Homo sapiens: one gene and its partner. The protein of the gene in region 1 interacts with the protein of each later gene in a pairwise test. Each region holds a gene or a part of one and is shown on either strand. Other genes may lie near its edges. The genes, in order: GIT2 and ARHGEF6.

Region 1 (8,064 bases):
GCACCTGTAATCCAAGCTACTCAGGAGGCTGAGGCGGGTGAATCGCTTAAACCCAGGAGGTGGAAGTTGCAGTGAGCCGAGATCGTGCCACTGCACTCCAGCCTGGGTAACAGAGACTCTATCTAAAAAAAACAAAAACAAAACACACACACACACACACTAGCCAGGCTTGGTGGCACATGCCTGAGATCTCAGCCACTTGAGAGGCTGAGGTGGGAGAATCATTTGAGACTAGGGAGGTTGAGGGTGCAGTCAGCCATGATTGTGCCACGACACTCCAGCCTGGGCAACAGAGTGAGACTCTGTCGTTTAGGCTGGAGTGCCGTGGCATGATCTCAGCTCACTGCAACCTTCGTCTCCCCAGTTCAAGAGATTCACAGCTGAATTCTACCAGACATACAAAGAAGAACATCCTACTAAAATTATTCCAAACAATCAAAGAGGAGAGACTCCTCCTTAACTCATTCTGTGAAGCCAACATCAGCCTGATACCAAAATCTGGCAAAGACACAACAAAAAAGGAAAACTTCAGGCCAAAATCCATGATGAACACAGATTTTTTAAAAAACTCTTAACAAAATATTAGCAAACCAAATCCAGTAGCACATCAAAAGTTAATCCACCATGGCTGGGCGCAGTGGCTCAGGCCTGTAGTCCCGGCACTTTGGGAAGCTGAAACAGGCGGATCATGAGGTTAGGAGTTCGAGACCAGCCTGGCCAACGTGGTGAAACCCCGTCTCTACTAAAGATACAAAAAATGGCCGGGCGTGGTGGCTTACGCCTGTAATCCCAGCACTTTGGGAGGCCGAGGTGGGCGGATCACGAGGTCAGGAAATCGGGACCATCCTGGTTAACACAGTAAAACCTCGTCTCTACTAAAAATACAAAAAAATTAGCCGGGTGTGGTGGCGGACGCCTGTAGTCCCAGCTACTCAGGAGGCTGAGGCAGGAGAATGGCATGAACCCGGGAGGCGGAGCTTGAAGTGAGCCAAGATTGCGCCACTGCACTCCAGCCTGGGCCACAGAGCAAGACTCCGTCTCAAAAACAAACAAACAAACAAACAAACAAAAAAAAACCAAAAGATTAGCTGGGCCTGGTGGCACGTGCCTGTAATCCCAGCTACTTGGGAGGCTGAGGCAGGAGAATCACTTGAACCTGGGAGGCGGAGGTTGTAGTGAGCCAAGATCATGCCATTGCACTACAGCCTGGACTACAGAGCGAGACTCTGTCTCAAAAAAATAAAAAATAAAAAATAAAAATAAAAATAAAAAAATTAACCCATCATGATCAAGTAGGCTTTTTTGCTGAGATTCAAGGCTGGCTCAACATACACAAATCAATAAATGTAATTTGCCACATCAATAGAAGTAAAAGCAGGCCAGGCGCGGTGGCTCCTGCCTGTAATCCCAGTACTTTGGGAGGCCGAGGCGGGAGGATCACGAGGTCAGGAGATCGAGACCATCCTGGCTAACATGGTGAAACCCTGTCTCTACTAAAAATACAAAAAAAATTAGCCGGGTGTGGTGGTGGGCACCTGTAGTCCCAGCTACTTGGGAGGCTGAGGCAGGAGAATGGCATGAACCTGGGAGGCAGAACTTGCAGTGAGCTGAGATCGCACCACTGCACTCCAGCTTGGGCGACTGAGCAAGACTCTATCTCAAAAATAAATAAAAATAAATAAATAAATAAATAAATAAATAGAAGCAAAAGCAAAAACCACATGATCATCTCAATAGATGCAGAAAATGTTTTCTTTTTTTGAGACAGGGTCTTGCTCTGTTGTCCAAGCTGGAGTGCCATGGTGTAATCTCAGCTCACTGCAACCTCCACCTCCTGGGCTCAAGTCATCCTCCAACCTCAGCCTCCCAGGTAGCTGGTACTACAGGCACGGCCACCATACCCGGCTAAAATTGTTATATTCTTTGTAGAGACGGGGTTTCGCCATGTTGCCCAGGCTGGTCTTGAACTTCTGAGCCCAAGTGATCTGCCAGTCTCAGTCTCCCAAAGTGCTGGGATTACAGGAGTGAGCCATCGCACCCGGCCAAAAAGTAATAAAAAAAGTTCTGAATAAGTAAGTTCTCATGCTCTGTGTGAGTAAGCATTTATCCAAGGCAGCGCTTTGAAAATATGCACATTTCTTACAGCATCTCTCAAAAACATGCGAAGGCCCACATAAAGAAAACCACCTCACTCGTTTTACAAGTATCATAAACCATTCTGTGTACTATAGCTTTGAGTCACACATTGCTTTCTGAAGATCATACTTACTGTTCAACCTGGAAACCTGAAGAAGTCCCCTTCCTTTAGTACTTTTTCTAGTCCTTATTAAAAAGAAACAATTGTCCTATAATCTTTCTAGTCCCTTCTAGAAACAACTCTGAGATGGTTCCTATTTCAAAGTTAAACAAACAAAAAACTTATCAAAATATAATTTAAAAGCCATATTGGAAAAACACAAACAGCCTTCCAGAGACTTACTTTTCCTCTTTGCCCTGAACCTCCACTATATGAATGGCTGCCATTTGAATTCAGATTAAAGACGAAACCGACTGACAAAAAAGCTATTAATTAATGAATGTGCAGAAATGAGTTTTTGTTTTTCTTTCTTTAAAAACTTTTTTCAGCCTGGGCAACATAGCAAGAACCCGTCTCTACAAAAAATAAAAAATATTAGCTGGGTATGGTAATGCGCCTGTAGTTCCAGCTACTCGGGAGGCTGAGGTGGAAGGATTGCTAGAGCCTGGATGGTCAAGGCTGCAGTGAACCGTGATTGCACCACTGCACTCCAGCCTGGGCAACAGAGCAAGACCCTGTCTCAAAAAAAACAAACGAAAAACAAAAAAACCCTGGCCGGGTGCAGTGGCTCACGCTTGCAATCCCAACACTAGGAGGCCGAGGCAGACGGATCACCTGAGCTCAGGAGTTCGAAACCAGCCTGGCCAACATGGTGAAACCCCGTCTCTACTAAAAATACAAAAATTAGCTGGGCATGGTGGCATGCGCCTGTAATCCCAGCTACCTAGGAGGCTGAGGCAGGAGAATCGCTGGAACCCGGGAGGCAGAGGCTGCAGGGAGCCAAGATCGCGCCACTGTACTCCCGCCTGGGTAACAGAGACTCTGTCTCAAAAAAAAAAAAAAAAAAAAAAAGCCCACAACCAGACTTTTTTTTCGTTTTTTCAAATAAAACAATATGCTGTCTCAGCCCGCTCTTTTAGGGATTTTAAAAGGTGTGACCCACCTTGCTAAGATCTTTGGCAGTCACACTATCGTCATCCCGGCAGGGCAAGCGATGGACGAACGCTAACATCTGATACTTGGCTCTGATGAATTCCGCTTTATTGGGACTGGTTCAAAAACAAAAAAGAAAACAGTTCACTCGTTCAGATACAACAATCCCCATTCTTTGTACTGTAAAAAGAAGAGGAAGTGACCCACATCCCCCACTTGAGAATAAAATGAACAATGCTCAAGTAAGTTTCAGCAAGGTTTAAGACCTGCAGTTTGAAAACATACATTAGTTATTATAATGGCTGGGACTCCAGAGTACCTGCTTTTTATAGTAGCCCTCTTCTCTGTGTAATTGTCTGAACTGATTTAGCAACTTTGGGAGAAAGCAGCATTTAGTCCCATCTTATAAGTGAGGCAACAGGCAGACGGGTGCCCAGACCTAGATTTCTGGTCTGATCGCCTCTTATTTGAGTATAAGTTTAAATCTGATTACATTTACAGACTCCAAGCCATGGTTTCCAACTGAGGAAGCCACTTACTCCTGCTGGGTGGCCATGCTAAACAGATGGTCCTGCCCCACCCCATTCTGCATTTCTAATAGCAAAGAACCTGATGCACAACTAGGGTAACCCCCTCCTCTGCTGCCCTTGCGGAGACTGACCAAAAATAGCTGCACTCCTTTCAGTGGGCCCCATTTGTTATGAAGAAATAAAAGTATTTATAAACATTCCACTCACTGTACTTTATCCTGTGGATTAGCTTTACGTCTTCCACTCATAATAGACGCAGGGTCCAGCAAAGAATGCTCCCATATAGAGTTAGCACCGTTATTATACAAGGTCTCAACCATCTAAAACCAAGCAGGATGACATAAGACTTTAATTTCTTTTCACAAATATTCAATGGGGATCAGTGACTGAACAGAGTAAACAAAGTCCTGTTATAAACACTCATTTGTTAGGAATATCATTCATATCATTGTTTTCTGATTTGAGAATGAGAAAGATGATCAATCTATATGCAGGATTCAGCTTTGACTAGTAGGATAGTTAAATACCTAAAGTGTGACTGAACTGTTCTTATTCTGTATGAAAGAAAAAAAAGTACTCTGACACCTTAGAGCAGGGTTTCCCAAACCTAATTAAACACTATTTTCAACATTCTTAATGACCCATGTACTGTCTATATTATTCACTTAATATTTGTCTTTAAAGCCACTTACTTGTAAAAACAACTACAGTTTGATGTGCTAGTTATAGCTTTCCCATACACAGTAAAATAATGTAACCATTAAAAAAAACATGTATTACCTACATCTGTCTTGAATACCACTGGTGGTTCCACATTTGGGGAATTGTTGCTTTAGGGTCAACCCTGGCATTCTAAACAACTCATCTCTGGACTTTACTGAGACTCTGTACTACAATCTGGCTTTGCAAACACAGACAGACCTGAGAGCAGTAAACAGCCCCTTTCACATGAGCGTGAGCGGTTAGAAACTTCTAAGCAAAAGTTAGTAATAAATCATATCTCCAAATTTCATTTCAAGGCATGACTCCTAAAACAGCCCCATCTGTTTTTTACAGCAGTGTAGTTATTTTCACATCAGAGATACAAACCCACTTGTTTTGGCTCCTTGGTTCACACAGCCAAGTTTAAGGGATATGTGCAGCTGTCACAGATTCAGTGAAATGTGTAATCAAGACAAATGAAGGCAAAACACACACTTAACCTTGAGTTCCAAGAGAACTTGAAGAATGTGTACCCCAAGATAGAAGTAAAGGTGACATGACATTGGACTCCAGATAAAACAAAGAACTCATTTAACAGGGTATTCTACATGCAATCAAAACATATTAATTTAATTTGGTCTCTCTGACTAGTAACAAGAGCTTTAAGAAAACTTAAAATGTTTCAGAAGTTTCTGAGGAATCCCAGCCCATGCTGCTATCAAAGCAGAAAAACATGTTCTAAAAATATTAGCAGGTACTCAGGAATAAGTACATTAAAGAAAAGATTCTCAGGCAGTAGCCTTCAGAAACATTCATTATCATGCATAGAAAAGATGGACTACTGGCCGGGCGCGGTGGCTCACGCCTGCAATCCCAGCACTTCGAGAGAGGTTGAGGTGTGGATCACTTGAGTTCAGGAGTTCGAGACCAGCCTGGCCAACATGGTGAAACCCCTTCTCTACTAAAAATACAAAAATTAGCCGGGCATGATGGCGGGTGCCTGTAATCCCAGCTACTTGGGAGGCTGAGGCAGGAGAATTGCTTGAACCCGGGAGGCGGAGGTTACAGTGAGCTGAGATCACGCCACTGCACTCCAGCCTGGATGACAGAGTGAGAGTCCGTCTCAAAAAAAAAAAAAAAACATTTCCGATGACAGTCTAGAAAGTCAACAGAGCAACAGTACCAAGATATTTTAATGACTATTCATCTATCTACCTATAATTGAGCTTGTTGAACAAGATTTATGTCAAGTAGGAAGAAAAGTCTTTACTGAATTCAATACAGATAATATTTGTAAATAGCATTGATGGGCATGCCATCTCTATTCAATTATGAAACAGTTTTGTCTTATGGAAGAAGTACACCAGGAGAAATTTAAGTTATTAACATGATGAGCCCTAAAATGTAAATTACCAACTGTCAGGAGAATTCTTATCCTTTACCTGAAGCAGTGTTGGAGGCCACGGTGTGTGTTTCAGATGCCTCACTTGGGAGATATGGCGCCCTAGACTCCGATGGACACTGCAGCACTCATCACATAAAAACGTTCCCCTATTTACTGATGCCCAGGAAGGATCTGGAAAGAGAGTGAAATCTCAGTGGCAGGGATACCAGCAGGTTGCTATACCGCCAGATGGCAAAAGATGACTGAAGTTTGGTTTGTCAGAAAAAGGAGACATTTTTGTTTCAGTATGCTCATCAATGCATCAGGCTGGTCATCTTGTTGGATGGTATGACCTACCTTGGCTGATTAGGTACAATGTTAATTGAGACTAAAAACACCAGTGGGAGCCTTGGGTAAACAGTTATCTTCTTTCTGGTTCAGGGCCACAGTTTGTAGCCCTAATGTGGATCTACCATTTCAGATGCATGCTTTTTCATTCAAGCTAAGAAAGCAAATTGAGAGGGTACAGACGAATGATTTTGGATCCATCTCCATAAAAATCAAGATAATACTTTTTTTTTTTTTTTTTTTTTTTTGAGATGGAGTCTCACTCTGTCACCCAGGCTGGAGTACAGAGGCACAATCTTGGCTCACTGCAACCTCTATCTCCCAGATTCAAGCAATTCTCCTGCTTCAGCCTCCCGAGTAGCTGGGATTACAGGCATGCACCACCACGCCCGGCTAATTTTTGTATTTTTAGCTGAGACGGGGATTCATCATGTTGGTCAGGTTGGTCTCAAACTCCTGACCTCAGGTGATCCGCCCACCTCGGCCTCCCAAAGTGCTGAGATTACAGGCGTGAGCCACTGTGCCCGGCCAAGATAATATAATTTTGACAGTGAATTATGCAGATAGCATTTTCTGCAGTAAATGTTGTAGACTGCTGTCCTAATTCACTGCTATGAATCAACATGTCAATATGCTTAGCAGAAAGCTGCGAGTTACAGAATCATAAAATCACTCAGCTGCTATGGTTCTGAGGACAGGGAAACCTGGCCTCTTCCATTAGGAAATGTTCTATGATGTCCATGAATTGGTTTGTTTGTCTGTTTGTTTGTTTTGAGACAGAGTCTCACTCTGTCCCCTAGGATGGAGTGCAGTGGCGCAATCTCGGCTCACTGCAACTTCTGCCTCCAGGGTTCAAGCGATTCTCCTGCCTCAGCCTCCCGAGTAGCTGGAATTACATGTGTGTGCCACCAGCTCGGCTAATTTTTGTTATTTTTAGTACAGACGAGGTTTCACCATGTTGGCCAGACTGGTCTCAAACTCCTGACCTCAGGTGATCCACTCACCTCGACCTCCTAAAGTGCTGGGATTACAGGCTTGAGCCACTGTGCCCAGCCAATTAATTGTTTTACATAAACTACCAAGTCCAATCCTGCAACTGATCTGAAAAAAAAAAAAGAAGTTGCAATAACAGCAGCTTCACAGAGGCAAAGATGTAAAATAAAAATGAATAATATTTTTAGTGTGTGTATAATACTTTTTTCCCTTTAAAGTCATAGAGCTTCATTAGCTGTCCTTTGAAACAAGGAATAATTTCATACTTGGCAAGCAGGATGGATCTGGGTAAGTAAACTGAATACCTAGAAACCTCAAATAAAGAAAGAGCTATACTTCGTCAGACTCACAATGGGGTGACAATAGGTGCCACTTAAGCTGCCTGGTCAAAGGGTTACATTTAAAAATTCTTCAATGTCCACAAAAATCTCTAAAATGCATGTACACCATCTTTACCATTTTTTAAGAGTTTATTCAAACCCTTTCAAACCATATAATGAAAAGTTATGGGCTTTCAATCAAAGACGAATCCTGGGAGCCAGTGAGTATGGTGGTTAAGAGGGTTGGCTCTAGAGACAAGGAGTTCAGGGTTTGAACCCCAACTCTGCCACTTCTTGCACAATGATCTCAGACAAGTTACTTGAGTGTTTTCACCATGGTTCAAATGAGAACAATGACAAATCTCGGGATAGTAAGGATATAGAGAATAAGTGAAGTACCTCACACATAGTAAAGTAGTAATGTTAGTTGTTATATCTTTTCTAAATTATTTTCTCAGTATTCAGATATTTTCTAGACGTGAAATTCATGATCACTGGACAAAGTTTTTGATGGGAAATACTTAAAACATTGAACATTTCATGTGACCACTCTACTAC
Region 2 (8,064 bases), on another chromosome or scaffold:
CCATAGGTAGCAAAATTACCTCTTTATAACCTAGTGCTGCTGATGGTCTAAGTGGAGGTGCAGGTCGTAGACAACTTAAACTCCACGGTTTTATAATTTGAGGAGGCTCCAAGGGTCCTCGGGGCTGTCCGGTAGAGCTAAAAGACTGGGAAAATGTCTGATGAGATGTTGGCAATCTGCCATCTGAACCCGACCTTGTGCCACACAGTGAGAGAACAACAATAGCTTCATTGGATTAGCAAAGACAGCCATAGAAAGGGATAGATGGAAAAACAAAAGTCTCTAGTTTGAGAACTGGTTCTTTCCAGTCCAGATTATCGGGTCTCTAAGAAACAGCACAAAATTGACTCAACATTCCATGATCCTGTCCTCTCTTTCTCATCTGGAATTTAATTAATTTAATTTTCTTTCCTCTGTAAGGAAGGAAAATGGAGTAGCAGTCAACATTTGAGTTCAGTGATATGTTTGGCACTCTAGTAGGTGCTTAAATAGGTTATTTCATGAGAACAGCCTAAGACATAGACTCAGTCAAGGGAAGCAACTAACTAGTAATTGGCAAAGCCAAGATTTGAACCCAGATCTGAAGCCAAAGTCCATATTCTTCCAACCACAACACACAGTCCTCAAAACTGGAATTTTGGCATCATAGGTTTGTATGTTAACAAACAACACAGCATATCTTCCATCTCACTCAGCAAGTACAGTAAAATCTCATCAATTCAAATTCCAATGTCTAAATTTGTGATAACTCAGAAGGAGATAATGCTAAAAGTTTACCTTTGAAGAAGGTTACTGAGCAAATGTGAGAGCATGAGTGAGATGACATGGAGATGTTTAAGTACTTAGGGAGGTAAACTATTTGTTTCGACTTAGCCCACTGTTAGTAGGAGAATAACCATTGCTCATGGAAATAAGCCTTGCTTATCATTAAAATATTTTAGCAGGACTTCTGGTTAGAAATACTTTGCTAGCAGTTAGTTGGGGTATCTGAATACTGTCAAACAGAACTGCACACTCTAAGTAAACCTTTTCATTAATTTGGATGGGCCTCATAATGAGAAATCAGAATGAGTGAGGTTTAACTGTACTTCAAAATCTACAAATATAGGCTGCCCAAAAGACTAAGGGTGTGCTCGCTGCTTCTTGTAAGTCTCCAGCAGGCAGGAGTTGACGAAAGACTCAATAATCTCTGGACAGAACACATGGACTACTTACAGAATGAGCACTACATGATGACGATGAGGTTTTGGATAATGAACTGCAAGAGGCAGGTCCTCTGATCAGTCTGTTCAGCTGCTCCAACCATTCCTGGAAGTCCTGGTTGTTGTTACAATGGACCACAATTCTCTCCACTGTGTTACCTACATCCCCCAATTATGATCAGTTTGAAAACAAAAGGCAAGGAAAAACTTGAGCTTGTCCCATTCATAAATAGACTTCATACAACTAGGACTTGGGTGTGTATTTTCAGGGGTTTTCATACCTATGGGATAACCCTGCTGAAATTTCTATATCAGAAACAGATAACCTGTGATTACAAAGTAAATAAATATTCATGTCTGATTTAGAAAACTGTCCTTGATTTTTACTGCTTACAGAAGCTTAAAAGTAGTGTAAAACTTCACCATAAACAAACTTGCAATCCAAAAACATAAGCACATAGTCCATCTAGTTAAGTCTAAAGTGGGAATATTGTCCTGGTTCCCCTGGTATCAAAGTTGGAACAAGATCCAACTAAGACTATTTACAACCTTTTGGCAAACACCAAACCTTAAGCTCCTTCTTGGGAAAGAAGAGGGTAAGGCCATGATCCCAGTCTTAGCCACTGTGCCATATCAGCACCAACAGTCAGGCCACTACATATAAATGACACAGACCTGGCAAAAGGGATCATAAGCTAAAATGTCAGGGGGCATTACTGAAGCCTGGCATTATGCTCAATTTGTGAAGAAAATTTGATGGCTTTTCAGAACTTTTTAGAAATACAACCAAATCTTACTAACTCATGGGCTGATGATAAAATTGCTGATAAAAGTCCATATCTTTGGCTCCTCTGCCACCAGGGAACAAATGACAGAGGGGAAGAAAATTGCGTTTACATCAGTCCATTTCGTTATTCCTTAGCTCTCACAAGTAGCTCTCATGCAACAGAAAATTGAAACTAATGGCAAAGCCATGGCTTTTGAATGAGAGGAGACTTCTCTGTGCTATTGCTGTACCCTAATTATCCCAGGAAATGGAATATACTTTGCCATGCCCGCATAAAATTTGCTCGTGGCCTATGTAACAGGAAATAATGGCATTTATTTATTAAATTCCCCTTCATTCCAAAAAGAATTGGAAGTAGTTACATGAAAAAGAGAAAATTACCTACCAGTGATTTCAAATGTGCAGTCATTCCCTTCAATTTCATCTAATCTAGTCACCACCGTTCCTGCTATTGGTATTTTTCCCTATTAGAAAAAGAACATTCTCATTAATTCTGCAGTTATACAGGTCTCTGTTTATTTCACTTAGATTTTCTGACCCTCTCAGCAAGGCAAAACTATGGCTAGACGTATTTCTCCAGTCTGTCAATAGATAATATGTTTCCCTGCTCTAAATTTTAATCAGACTAAGAAAGCAAGGGGAAAATGTGGATTGTGTTTGGCTAACACACCCTAAACTATAAGATCAGGATTTACAAAGCAGTTTACTTTTCTAACACATTTTCATAAGAATCAGTAAAAAAAAGTGAAGGCTCAGATGTTATGAAAATTATTAATTGCCAGGCCAAGATGGAACAGGCAATAGTAACTTATAATACTCTATATGTTGGGAGCTGACTGAGGGACATTTAATTTCCTAAGGAGTTTAATAACATGCTTCTTAGAAGCCTGAATCATGTGCTGTGACTATAATAAGACAAACATAGGAGCAGGTCCCAGCTTTATGTTTTCTCAGCAATAATGACATGGGCCTGTACAATACTGCTGCTAATTTATCTAGTTTCCATTTATGCATGCAAAACCTAGTGCATAACTAAAGCGGTGGATATATTCAAGATAAACTCATTATACTAATACAAAGGTCTTTGATCTAAGGAACATCTGCTCTTACAAGCTCTTTAATTACAATGAAGGGTCAGAACATTCTGGTTCTCCTGGCTTGAGCTTTTAATGCCATAGTGGAGATATTGCATCTGGATGGAAACCTGTTTTCGTTAGGGGGTCTGCTATGTGTTTTATATGAAATTTACTAACCTGATAGATAAAGCCACTCATCCGAGGACTTGCAGATAACATTATCAGGACATTTGAAAATAACATAAGGTACCGCTCCTCTTTTTCCTGAGAGGGAATGAAAATAATACATGAAGAACAGAATTGGACACTTTATCTGTTGAGAATTTCTGGAATCACTGCCTTATAACATAGACCTTATATAAACAACTGAAACATTAACGGTAATTTTTTTTTTAAAAAAGATACCCAACTTGAAAACACAAAACTAGTTGAATTTTACTTTGACATGGACATAAACCCACAGTTTATCTCTCTTCTTCTTATACATAACAATTAAATACAAATAACCATGCTTGCTTTCCATGTATGAAAGCCTGAGAAGTCACCACAGTTTATGCAGCCAGTGAGATGTGCTAGACCTGGGCACAAAATAAGTCTCCAGGTTCACAAAATGAAAATATATTTTACTTTGAAAAAATGGCAAGATGAAGGGGTTTTCAGGTGATAAGAGATTTAGTATGCTCTAACATGTTTGTTAAAGTCGTATTCATAAAATTAGCTTTGGTCATTAAGAACAAGATAATTATTGGATTTATGTAAAACATAAAAGTAGATACACTTTCTTTTTTTTTTCTTGAGACGGAGTTTCGCTCTTTTTGCCCAGGTTGGAGTGCAATGGCACGATCTCGGCTCACCACAACCTCCACCTCCCGGGTTCAAGCGATTCTCCTGCCTCAGCCTCCCAAGTAGCTGGGATTACACACATGTGCCACCACTCCCGGCTAATTTTGTATTTTTAGTAGAGATGGGGTTTCTCCATGTTGGTCAGGGTGGTCTCAAACTCCCGACTTCAGGTGATCCACCCACCTCAGCCTCCCATACACTTTTTAATGGCACTGAGGAAACCTTGAAACGTGAGGGCTGCTGTGAGCCCCTTCAACAGATATGCAATTAGTATACGCAAAAATTACGTTTGCCTTCCATGCCCAGCCATCTTAGCTACAATTATCCTTATGCCTGTCTCCATCTCCTTCCTTCCATTTGAGAAGAGCAACCCTTCCAGGCTAACTATTCTAACAAGTGCTCCACATTCTCTCACATCTTTGTTTCACTTAGTTTTCCTCTACAGACACCTCTTCTTCTCCCAGCATCCTCTTCTCTTTTACTAGCTGTTCCTCTTTTTCTTTAACATATGTACACCTCCTATCCTAACAGACCTTGGCTTGCCCCCATGTGGCCCTTTATGCATAATATCCCATTTCTTGACATTTTATTGGCAAATTACTTGCTGCCTTCATTTTCTCTGCATTGATCCATCCCTAACTGCACCCCCATTGCTCTTGGAAAGTCATCAGTAACTGCCTTCTAGCAAAATCCAATGGCTTCCTCTTGGTCTTCACATTCCTTGCCCTCTGAACCTTCAGCAGCAGTCAGCACACTGGCCATTTTCAAATGCTCCTCGTGGAATTTCCATGACACCATGCTCCCCCAGTTCTTCTCTACCTTCCTCTTTGTCTTTTTATTTTTTCTGGCACTGATTCCTCCTGCCTTCACCCAAGGGGTTTATCCCAAAGGTGTGAATGACTAATAGTTAGACTCACTGCAGTAACCTTCCCTGGGGTATTTGCATTTTAAATGAGATTGCTTATTAACCCAAAGTAATGAATCTCCGCCAAAGACGTGTCAGAGAGCGTAGGAAGATGTTTTGGGAGAAGGAAGACAATTCTAACACCCGATACATCAAACCAGGTGCCATAATCAACCTTTCTCCCTTTCCCTGGCTCCTTCCTAAAAGAAATAATCCATCTTCAGCTCCCCCCACCCCCCGGGCTTCTCTCTGGATATTTACTTCCTAGGAAGGCACATCTGTTAGGGACATCTAAGTCTCTGCCTCTAACTCTGACCTCTCACTCACATTTCCATACTACATTAACAGCTGCCTATGGGACATCTCCACCCAGATATCTACAGGTCTAAAATTATATTCTTCATCTCCTCTAACCCAGGGGCACCACTTCCTGTTGGCTTTCCCTTCTAAAGATGCCTCCAATTTGCTCCTTCTGCTCCATTCCCAGTGTTACCACCGTCTTAGGGGACTCCTTCTCACTTTCCATCCCAGCTGGCCTTTCTGCTTCTCGTCCATTCCCTCCAGTTCATTTGACATATATAGGTCGCAGATTAGTGTGAAACATCCCTTTCGGAGTGTTGTTCTATGACTGTGGACTCTTTCATTATTTCCCATGGCCTGTTGCATCCATCTGAACTACTCTTGCCTGATGTCAAGCTTCTGCATAGTCTAATTCTACCTGACTCAATCAATCTTTTACTAGGGCCAAGTTGCTTCTTTTGCTCCCTACAGGCTGGTTTCCTTACTGTGCTGCAGCAAACCAAAGCCACATTTCTGTTCTCTCCTAAGATAACAATGACCTCTGCCTTGCGAAATCCTCCCCTTTTGTTTTTGTGCCCCCTCCTCAAGTCCTGTCTCCGTAAGGTCTTCTTGATCTCTCCCTCCTGTGAACTTCTATGGACTCTTGTTGAGATTGCAAAATCGAACATTGACTATTTGGTTTGTCAGCTAGTTGCAACTTGTGTTTTAGTCTGTTTTTAATGAGTTCTTTGAAAACAGGGATCATTGCTTGTTCTTTTCTCCTATCTCCCACAGCACCTAGCAGAATGTTCAACAAAGAACAGGTGCTCAGCTTCTGATTTGAATGTTGTAGCATTTGACTTTGATGGAAGAACAAGGAAGAAAAACTACTTAAGAGGCTCAGGCAGGAGGATTGCTTGAACCCAGGAGGCAGAGGTTGCAGTGAGCCAAGATGGCACCACTGCACTCCAGCCTGAGTGACAGAACAAGACTCCGTCAAAAAAAAAAAAAAAAAAGGAAGAAAAATACGAAAGATGGAAGAAATAATGTTGAGATTTGAAATACCTTACCTCACATGCTCCATACTGCACCATTACTTGTGACATAAAAATCACATTTCCCAAGTTTTTAATATCTTCTCCTTCCCATGCCTGAATAGGTTCGGACAGTATCTGTAACTCCAGCTGTTTTCTCTTCCTCAGATCTTGACATTGCCCCTACAGAACCAAAGCAGAACATAATGGAATAGGAATTCTTATGAAATAGACTAAAATAAGACCAAAGTAAGATGTGGCTTCTGACTCTTTGGTTCCCACTGAGTCCCTATTCCTCATCATGAATCCCATGACCCAGGCCTGTTCTTGATAGACAGAAAGATCCACTACCCTAAATCTCTAGGCTTGAGCCCCCAAAGGTTTTGTGAGGAAGGCCTATTTTTCATTTTGCCAAAGCATCAAAACATAATGCTAGAAAGAGCTTATTTCTCCCTCCCTGTAAAGAATATGGGAAAGCAAGCAGCCAAATCACACTGACCAGAGCCAGGTGAGGACCTGGTAGATTCAGATCTACTGGTTGGTGCCCCTGCTTTAGCTCCTCTTACCTTGTCTATCTTTGCATAAATAGGGCTTTAGTGACAAAATAATTGTATTTCTAACATATGCTCAATTTTCAACAAGGTAACATCTTGAAAATAATAAAAAACAAAAAATTTCTCCTGGAGTTATAGTGAAAGAGAAAATTAAATTCTTTATGCCACAGTGAATCAAACTTATAATGAAACCTAGGCACTGCTGTACTTTGTTTAAGGACCAAGATTGCTGTGAAAAAAATACTAAATTAGTTTTTATTCCTAAAAGGATTGGAAAAAAGAGATACAACTGAATTTCATGATGACATACTGAAATTTCAAACCAAGAAAAAATTACAGTTTGCCAACACTATGTGGGGTATGAATACTCTTTCTATATATATGTGTGTGTATGTGTGTGTATATATATATATATATATATATATATACACATATATATATATATATACACACATATATATATACACATGTGTATATATATATACACATATATATATATACACATATATATATACATATATATATATATATATATATATATATCTCACTGCTTAAGAAACTGTGAGGTTATCTTAGAGTAATTTAACAGCATGCCTTCCAAATTGAATACAAAAATAAGCACATGGTTAGTTCTGTTACTGTTTCCAAATGAATGTAAGATAATATTTTGGGGTTATATTTTCTATAAAATCTCTGCTGTCCCTTTCAGCTACATGGAAACTCAAAGAAATAAATTCACTGTACACATATTTTAAGAGCACCTATAGTAGGAATAAATATACTAAACCATCAAGGCAAGTTATATAATATAATCAGAAAGAAATACAGGTTTTTAAAAAGACTCATTTTACATTCCTATTTATACAAGAAAAAATAGAAGAACCATAATTATAATAAATGCTGTGGGTTTCACTGGGCTGTTCTATTAGCTTGCGCCATGTAAAACTGCCAATATTGGACTGTTTTTGGCATATAACAATGGCAATTTTAATCTAATACTTACTCTGGTCTTCAACTTACTGTTCAACTACAGACACGTCAATTACTGATCTTTCAACAAGGATTAATAATTAAACATTAGTCCAAATCACTTATAATGCTACAGAATTGTGTGAAATGAAGCTAAGTTTAATCAATTGCCCAAAATGAAGTTTTCTTTCCTCCTAAAATGGCACCAAGTGGTTTTATATCAGTGGGTTCAAGAAGATACATTAACCATCATACTGAAGATACAAGATCACGTGTACCTTTGATAGCAACCTATATAAAGCACTTGCATTTTAGTTCTTTAGGTTTTTTCCCCCCTTTTAGATTTGATGAAGGATTTCTTCTTCATATGCAAAGAAAAAACTCATACCCTTTGGCATAACTAGTTGAATCCAGTA

Evidence for each region.
Region 2: the proteins of GIT2 (region 1) and ARHGEF6 interact in binary tests that used the Homo sapiens proteins (3 or more experiments, as listed by UniProt).

The regions. Positions count from the first base shown.
Region 1 is NC_000012.12:109,985,724-109,993,787, forward strand, and holds part of GIT2 (ARF GTPase-activating protein GIT2), read right to left. Parts: intron 6,038-8,064; coding exon 5,904-6,037; intron 4,080-5,903; coding exon 3,967-4,079; intron 3,346-3,966; coding exon 3,240-3,345; intron 1-3,239. UniProt on the Homo sapiens protein: GTPase-activating protein for ADP ribosylation factor family members, including ARF1.
Region 2 is NC_000023.11:136,679,516-136,687,579, forward strand, and holds part of ARHGEF6 (rho guanine nucleotide exchange factor 6), read right to left. Parts: intron 6,309-8,064; coding exon 6,162-6,308; intron 3,330-6,161; coding exon 3,243-3,329; intron 2,454-3,242; coding exon 2,375-2,453; intron 1,362-2,374; coding exon 1,216-1,361; intron 158-1,215; coding exon of another isoform or gene 146-157; coding exon 20-145; intron 1-19. UniProt on the Homo sapiens protein: Acts as a RAC1 guanine nucleotide exchange factor (GEF).